Regions from separate parts of the Homo sapiens genome. Here regions 2 and 3 are each linked to region 1. Evidence: fine-mapped expression QTL. A gene starts in region 1. Each other region holds a variant in brackets. All regions are shown on one strand. Distances are from middle to middle. Region 1 holds the start of IPO9 (importin 9). Region 2 overlaps LMOD1 (leiomodin 1). Region 3 overlaps IPO9 (importin 9).

What was found.
Region 2: its variant is fine-mapped to the expression of IPO9 in blood mononuclear cells (TOPMed, PIP 0.96).
Region 3: its variant is fine-mapped to the expression of IPO9 in whole blood (TOPMed, PIP above 0.99).

Annotation. Positions count from the first base shown.
Region 1 is chr1:201,827,849-201,830,610 of GRCh38, forward strand. IPO9 (importin 9) reads left to right here and starts at 1,309. Exons shown (of 24, transcript NM_018085.5): 1 at 1,309-1,524. The coding sequence starts at 1,362. It overlaps IPO9-AS1 (IPO9 antisense RNA 1), which reads right to left and starts at 1,711. Exons shown (of 3, transcript NR_046696.1): 1 at 1,103-1,711. RefSeq lists enhancers at 1-422, 423-936, 1,093-1,387, 1,399-1,608 and a silencer at 1,109-1,348.
Region 2 is chr1:201,901,479-201,904,240 of GRCh38, forward strand. The region is part of intron 1 of LMOD1 (leiomodin 1); the gene reads right to left. Among named protein-coding and RNA genes, the nearest start is that of SHISA4, 14 kb to the left of the region's middle. The variant A/C (reference allele first, on the strand shown) is at 1,227.
Region 3 is chr1:201,869,175-201,871,936 of GRCh38, forward strand. It overlaps IPO9 (importin 9), which reads left to right. Exons shown (of 24, transcript NM_018085.5): 17 at 416-544; 18 at 1,409-1,684; 19 at 1,987-2,153. Among named protein-coding and RNA genes, the nearest start is that of MIR6739, 7.2 kb to the left of the region's middle. The variant G/A (reference allele first, on the strand shown) is at 1,516.

The DNA.
Region 1 (2,762 bases):
TTTCTGCCACTACATGCTTGCCACTCTGCCCTGCATTTTTTTTAATTTTTATTTTTTTTTATAGACAGAGTCTGTATATCTTGCCCAGACTGGAATGCAGTAGCTATTCATAGGTGTGATGACAGCACACTACAGCCTGGAACTCCTGGGCTCAAGTGATCCTCCTGCCTTGGCTTACATCTTGCTTTTTCTTCTTTTTCTGAGACAAGATGTCACTCTGTCGCCCAGGCTGGAGTGCAATGGCGCAATCACTGCTCACTGCAGCCTCCTCCTCCTGGGCTCAAGTGATCTTCCCACCTCCACCTCCCGAACAGCCGGGACTACAGGGCGTACGCCACCACGCCTGGGCAATTTTTGTATTTTTTTGTAGAGACGAAGTCTCGCTATGTTGCCCAGGCTGTTCTCGAAATCCTGGGCTCAAGCGATCCTCCTGCCTCGGCCTCCCAAAGTGCTAGGATTAGAGGCGTGAGCCACTGCGCCTCGCCACACCCTGCATTTTTAACACCTCACTGGAGCGCTCATCCTCTCCACCTGCTCCGCTATTCAGGAGCGGCTCTGCACCGTAGGCCATTTCCCACGACCAGCTGCTGACAACCATATCATCAAACTGCTCTTGTTCTCGCACCCCTTAAATGTCCAGCCATAATTTCTCAGGGAAAAAAATTTATACATTTTCAACAAATAGGATTCATTCTCAAATAGTCACATACAACACTCACTCTGGAAGAAACTCCCTTTCACATGCCGGTGTCTCCCCTGCCCAGCCACTTCCCAGCTTTGAGGTTGGGCTCATCTAGGCTGGAAAACCAAGGGACTGGGCCGTGGTTTTCCCACTTCCACTTCCCAGTTTGCTTTAGTTTATTTTCCCCCCTCTTTGGATTCCTGAGGCTAAGATGAAGAGAGTCACTTGAGCCAACTTTTTTTCAGTGTTTGGGGGGAAAAGAATGTGGTTTAAAATAGGGGCTATTTGTGACCCAGACCTCTCTCCTTAAAGCCCTCTACATCTATTCCCATCCCGCCTCCTCTCTCCTAACACCTGAAAGATGCATGAATATAAAGTCATATATCATGAACTTTATTCCAAATGAGATTGCTAACTTACTGTGCAACTTTAGGAAAGCCCCTTAACCTGTCTGGGGCTCAGTTTTCACACAAATCCAGAGATCCTTGCAGAGAAAGGTGCAGTTCTCGTTCAGGCAGCAGGAGGCGCTGTCTCTGGAGGCTTAGATTCATTCCCCGCCCTCCGCCCGCTCCCGCCCGCCTCTGGTGCGCAGGCGCGGCTTCGCGGATTGGCCGCGCGCGGGGGCCGTCATTCGGTGGCGGGTCCCGGCCGCGGGGCTGGCGGGCTGAGGGGAGAAAAGATGGCGGCGGCGGCGGCAGCTGGTGCGGCCTCCGGGCTGCCGGGTCCAGTGGCACAAGGATTAAAGGAAGCGTTAGTGGATACGCTCACCGGGATCCTATCCCCAGTACAGGAGGTGCGGGCGGCTGCTGAAGAACAGATTAAGGTGCTGGAGGTGACGGAGGGTGAGTGAGGCGGGACCGTCACGAGGATGGCTCAGCCGCACAATCCGCTGACCGCAGCTCCGTACCGGCTGGGGACATGGGGAGCCTGAGCCAGTTGGAGATGTGGGCGCCGAGAAGTGGAGCAGGAAGCGAGAGATTGATGTCGCTGGTGGTTGTGAAAGTCCGAGAGAGGAGAGGCGCGCCTGAAGGATAGGGTCGGGGGAGGTGGAGCCTGGGAGTGGGGGAGGGAGGGTGGAGACTTGAAAAGATAGATGGAGCCTAGAATCTGCAGGGGACGGAGATGGAGCTAGACTTGGTGCTGTTGGAGGAAGTAGCGCGGTCGGGGAAATATTTTTTGAGTCCAGGACCAAAGTCTTTCGCTGTTCTCTTCACCAGCTGGATTGTACTGGGATAAGAGTAGGGGGAGCTATTAGTAGGAGTGGTGAAGGGTAGGGCCTCGAAAAGGCGGCTATCAAAGCTTAATAGATGTCATCAAACAAGTTTCTGCCTCTGAGTTATAAACCTAGCTAGTTGTTTGTACTCTTCGTGTTTTCCCAGAAATTAAATGCATATGCGATTGCTTCACTGTCCTGACCATACTTAACGTTTATTTTAAAAATAATTTGCCCTTATTAAATACCTTTGTGCATTTCTGTTTGGAGGAACTGATCATCCTTTGTTTTTGATTCTTTGTCTCCGTCCTCTATTGTGTGCTTTAAAGTGATGGAGAAGAAAATAAACCATTGGTTCGAGATTTTCTATCAATTTCCTGCCGCGTGAGCCTTTCACCGGGTCCAGTGTAGCTACCACAAAGAACAATTTAATCCAGAAACAGGAGGAGAAATCTTCTTGGTCTTTGTGTAAGAAATATATCTGGTCAGAGCTTCACTGGAACTCCAAATCCTCAGAATCTCCCAACTCAGGAATATTTCCACCACCACTTAAATACTTCATCAGAGATATGGGAAATTGTCCCATCACACACCCATCATATTCAAAACCTTCAGTTAGCTCTCCTACTGGACGTATTTCTATTGAAAAGAATTTAGAACAAATCTCTCTTAAATTTAGTTTACATTCTTTCACAGTATGAAAGAGCTGTTGAAAACAAATTTTCTTCTGTTGGAAATATGTTAAGATTTGGGATCTAACAGGCTAAGGACCATTTTGAAGGCCCACTTGTAATTGTCATTGTTTTATAAAATATCAGATCTATACAGGAGAAACCACTGGTTAGGAGAAAGCTGTTTGAGAACCAT
Region 2 (2,762 bases), 74 kb after region 1:
GCAACAAGAGCGAAACTCTGTCTCAAAAAAAAAATATATATATATATATATGTATATATATATATATATATATACATATATATATGTATATATATATATATATATACATATATATATGTATATATATATATACACATATATATGTGTGTGTGTATATATATATATATATACATATATATGTGTATATATATATATACACATATATATATGTGTATATATATATATATGTGAAAACATCAGTTATCTTGCTCACTGAGTTTTTGGCATCCGCTTATATTCTGTGCCCAAGGTGAGTGCCTCACATCCCTTCACCTTAGTCCTGGCCCCTGCTTTTAAGGAGTAGGCCAATAGTTCTGAGATACAGAAATTTTATAAGGCAATACATTTCCAAAGGAAAAAAAGGTAGAGGGATCAACATATGCTAACATTTTATTTTACCAATTAAGGATATTTGTAAATTATTATCATTATTATTGTTATTATTATTATTTTTTTTTTTTAGAGATGGGGGTCTTGTTATGTTGCCCAGGCTGGACTCAAAATCCTATCCTCAAGCAGTCCTCCCACCTCAGCCTCCCAAAGTGCTGAGATCACAGGTGTGAGCTGCCATGCCCATCCGATATTTTAAAATTCTATCTACCATCATCATCTCATTAAAATAAGAAGGAGCTAATTTTAAAGAAGGTAGGCATAACAGAGTAAAGAATATACCTTAACAGCAAATATGTGTATTTTTTTAAATTCACAGTATTGTCCTTATTTTTAGTAAAAACTTAGCTAAGGACAAGCATCTCTCTGTGGAGAGCCCTGGAATTCATTGGGTCAGCTGATCTCTGGAAGACTCTGCCAGATTCTAGATCTTGGATTCTATGACTCAATTTTGACCCCCGAGACACTGAGAAGTTTGTGAGAGAGGCCATGGGACCAAGTCAGTTGAGCTGTGATGGGGGCTTGAGGTTTTTTTTGGTTTGTTTGTTTGTTTGTTTTTGACAGAATCTTGCTCTGTCACCCAGGGTGGAGTGTGATGGCGCAATCTTGACTCATGGCAACCTCTGCCTCCCGGGTTCAAGTGATTCTCCTGCCTCAGCCTCCTGAGTAGCTGGGATTACAGGTGCACACTACCATGCCCAGCTAATTTTTGTATTTTTAGTAGAGACAGGGTTTCACCATGTTGGTCAGGCTGGTCTCGAACTCCTGACCTCATGATCCACCCACCTCGGCCTCCC[A/C]AAGTGCTGGGATTACAGGCGTGAGCCGCCGCGCCAGGCTGGGGGCTTGAGTTTTATACACAGCATAAGCCACCCACACCTCCATGGATCCCTGTTTCTTCCTCCGTAAGGTTGCACCGAGCCTGAGCCCTGTTTTGAGAGCACTTGCTTCTCGTCTTCATCAGAGAAGCAGAGGAAGTGGCAGAGTTAGACATTAGACATAGAGTAGACATTAGACTTAACTGTCCAACTGTGACCCCAGAGCAACTGGGACTTAAAGGGAGGCTGTGATGTCCTCCCCTAAAGGTTTTTCAAGAGGAAGAGACTATGGTTTGAATATTTAAAAAGTTTTCTTTCAAGAGTGCCAGGTTGGGGTGTGGGGAGAGGGCAGGGAAGAAAGGAAAGCAGCTCTCTGTCGCACTCTCGGGCCCAAGTAGCATTTCTTCAACCTCCGCTCTTCGCCGAGGGAATGGAAAGAAAAGTGAGTCCTATGGAAACGGTTTGTACCTGCACCACAAACACATGCCATTGGGGACCAGCCCCTGGGTTTTTTTAGCAGCGAGAGTCCTTGGCTCCTCTGCTAGAATCACAATAAGCAGCCAAGGGGCACAGGGCCTAGTGAGACAGGGCCTTGGAATGTATCTGTTCTAGCCTCCTGCCCTGCAGGCCCCAAGGTCCAGCTGCACTGGAGGCCCCACTGGGGCTATGGTGATGGAGCAAGGGGCAGAGAGCTCCCCCTCCCACTCACTCAGGCCCCCAGGGAACTGGGTTTGACCCTCAGATCAACTGGGTTTGACCCTGGAGCAGAAGTGATGGTGACCTTACTGAACCTTGATTTGAAAGGGACAGAAGGAGAGGAGTATGCAAATAGAATGGAAACAAGGAAACCCAATGGATCAGCCCTTTTAGGATCTGCCCATAGTTTGACCAGGAAATTCCCTCTCCTATTCCCTGATCCCATCAAGTTGAGAGCAGTTCCATCACTGATTCTGTCCACTTTTGGAGCTTGGAGGTGAGAGCTGGAGGGACCAGCCTCTCTAGGCCCATGGTCTAGAGATTAGGCCTCCAGGGCAAAGACTCCTGCCCTCCCCTCTTCCTTCCTTTCCCAAAATGTGCACATTTCAGGAGTTCTCAGAGCCCACTGTGCACTGCATAGCTTCCCTTTCCAGAGTTCCCACGCCACTTGTAGGCTTCACTCAGAGAGAAACTGGGGATCCAGAGAGATGATGAGTTAACTGACTTCACCTAGCAAGTTCGGGAAAAGCTGGATTTCAGACCTGACTGTCTCACTAACAGCCACCAAGTCAATGTAACCATCTCTAACCTTCCCCATCAGGGGCCAAAGCAGCTCCTCTCGGCCCACCCAGCATCCCTGGAGTACTCAAGTGCCCAGCTGCCCACAGAGCCTCACCCACCAGCCTCCTCTTTTCACGCAGCCCCCTTCAGAGCTAGGACTCCCATTCAGACCCTTCCCTCTCACCCCTAGCCAGGACTCAATTTAACCTTCTTTCTTTCTTTCCTTTTCTTTTCTTCTTTTTTTCTTTGAGATGGAATTTC
Region 3 (2,762 bases), 41 kb after region 1:
CAGGAGGCAGAGGTTGCAGTGAGTGGAGATCGTGCCACTGCACTCCAGCCTGGGTGACAGAGCGAGACTGCCTCAAAAAGAAAGAAAGAAAGAAAATGGCTCTTCTTGTTCCAGAGGTACCCTCAGTGAATTGAACAGAGTGCCACCTTTACACAGTGCCACTAAGTATGTCACCTGGTTATCCAATCCACTACCATGTACTACTGCCCACCCCTATGGCTAATCAATTAGTAAGCTATTATGAGAAGGCTGAGAGTACTACCCATTTAATTATTCCTTTTATTTTGGAAACTTGCCTTTCATTAATAAGCTTTCTCTGGGTTGCTATGTAATACCCATCCAGTAAGGATCTTGGTTGTTGGGCAACCCCCACCCCAGAGGCAATTCTGACTTTTCTTTTTCTTCTCTCTTTCAGACAGCCATTGATATCCTGACAACAGTAGTACGAAATACAAAGCCTCCCCTTTCCCAGCTTCTCATCTGCCAAGCTTTCCCTGCTGTGGCACAGTGTACCCTTCACACAGATGACAATGCCACCATGCAGGTATCTGAGACATGGAGAGTAGAAGAGGGAAGATAGCTCCCCAGCCATGGGCTTATACTATGCTGAGAAATCTGACATGGTTTTATGCTTTTGAAATACGGAATTCTCAACTCCATATTTACTTAGCAGATTCAGGAAGGGTTCAGTCTGCAAAAGCCAAGCATTTCTGGTGCTTTGGAGCATGTTACAGTTTTTAAAAATATGGATACCAAGCACCCTGCCCATCTGTATTGGGTATTGCTACTGTGAAAGAGGTTACAGACATCTAGACTTGGGGCCATAAGAAAGTCTTTCTGCATATTTCTTCTAGTAATAAAGTCAGCAGAGTGATGGGCCTCTAGAGAGGGGAGACATGCCTGAATATTTTTTCTCTTTTTGTTTCTTGGGTGAATTGGTTACCTTTTCAGGTGTCTGCTACTGTGATTGATTAGAAAGGTTATAGGAACTTGCCAGTGAATATTGATCAGCTTGGAAATCCCTAGGCAACTAGTGGTTTGTGTAAGACCTATATAAAGACCTACAGTATCCCCAGTTATTCCAAGATTGTAAGCATATTTTTTTAGTACCAGAGGTAGACCTTTATGATTAAAATTCATTTTGCTTGGCCATTGTCCCTTGTGATTAAAAAAATATATATACACATTTGTGAGATAGCTGATTAGGTAAAGGGGGAATTATGTAATGCACGTCTATGTCTGTAACAGTAAATGTCTTAACTCCAGTGGTATGAGCCCACCACAAACATTATAGACTCACCGCTTTTATGAGGCATAGGCCTCTGGGAACATTTGTTTATACAGACTGAGGGCCTTCTGGCATCTGTCCCTCGATTACTAATCTTGCTTGCCACCCCTGTCTCCCCAGAATGGCGGAGAGTGCTTGCGGGCCTATGTGTCAGTGACCCTGGAACAAGTAGCCCAGTGGCATGATGAGCAGGGCCACAATGGACTGTGGTATGTGATGCAAGTGGT[G/A]AGCCAGCTCCTGGACCCCCGCACCTCAGAGTTCACTGCGGCCTTTGTGGGCCGCCTTGTTTCCACCCTCATCTCCAAGGCAGGGCGGGAACTCGGGGAGAATCTAGACCAGATTCTTCGTGCCATCCTCAGTAAGATGCAGCAGGCAGAGACGCTCAGTGTCATGCAGGTAAGAGAGCAGTGGGGAGTGGGCTTCCTACTCCCTGGCTGATAGAAATGAAAATTCGTATTTTGGTCCTGAGTTATTTTATTTTACCCTCTTACTAGCCTTGTAGGACAGTTAAGTAAAATGGGACCTGTCTGATCTGTTTGGCCTAAGAAACATGGACAAGGAAATCTCCCATGTTTTCTTGTCCTGTGGATAATACCCTCAGTGTAGACTGTATTTCTTATCTGACTGGCCAGTTCCCTCTCATCTCCTATGTCTCTGAAATTGATTTCCCTGAAGCAAATGTCCTTATTTTCTCCTAGTCCCTGATCATGGTGTTCGCTCATCTGGTGCACACTCAGCTAGAACCTCTCTTGGAGTTCCTGTGTAGCCTCCCAGGACCTACTGGCAAACCTGCTCTAGAGTTTGTGATGGCTGAGTGGACAAGCCGACAGCACCTGTTCTATGGACAGTATGAAGGCAAAGTCAGGTAGAACCTCATCTTTCTTTTCTGGGCATTCTGCCACCACTCATATTTCTTTTTTTTTTTTTTTTTTTTTTTTTTTTTTGAGACAGTCTCGCTCTGTCGCCCAGGCTGGAGTGCAGTGGCACAATCTTGGCTCACTGCAACCTCCACCTCCTAGGTTCAAGCAATTCTCCTGCTCCTGCCTCAGCCGTCCGAATATTACACACATGCACCACCATACCCAGTGAATTCTTTGTGTGTGTGTTTTTAGTAGAGAGAGGGTTTCACCATGTTGGCCAGGCTGGTCTTGAACTCCTGACCTCAAGTGATCCACCCACTTCGGCCTCCCACAGTGCTGGGATTACAGGTGTGAGCCACTGCTCCTGACACATATTTCTTTTTTTTCCTGATTTGCTCCATTGATTTTTGTTTGACATTTCAAATGGCTCTCTGTATTCCCTTTTCCCTGTCTTTCTTTATTGCTAACGCACATATGTGAATAGCTGCCATCTTGAAATCCCCAAAAGACAGTCAACACAGGTAGACTATATATTTCTGGTCTCTGTTTACAAGAGATCCCTTCTCTACCACAGACTTCACACAGCTAAGTGCTGCTAGTGGCTTATTTTCCTT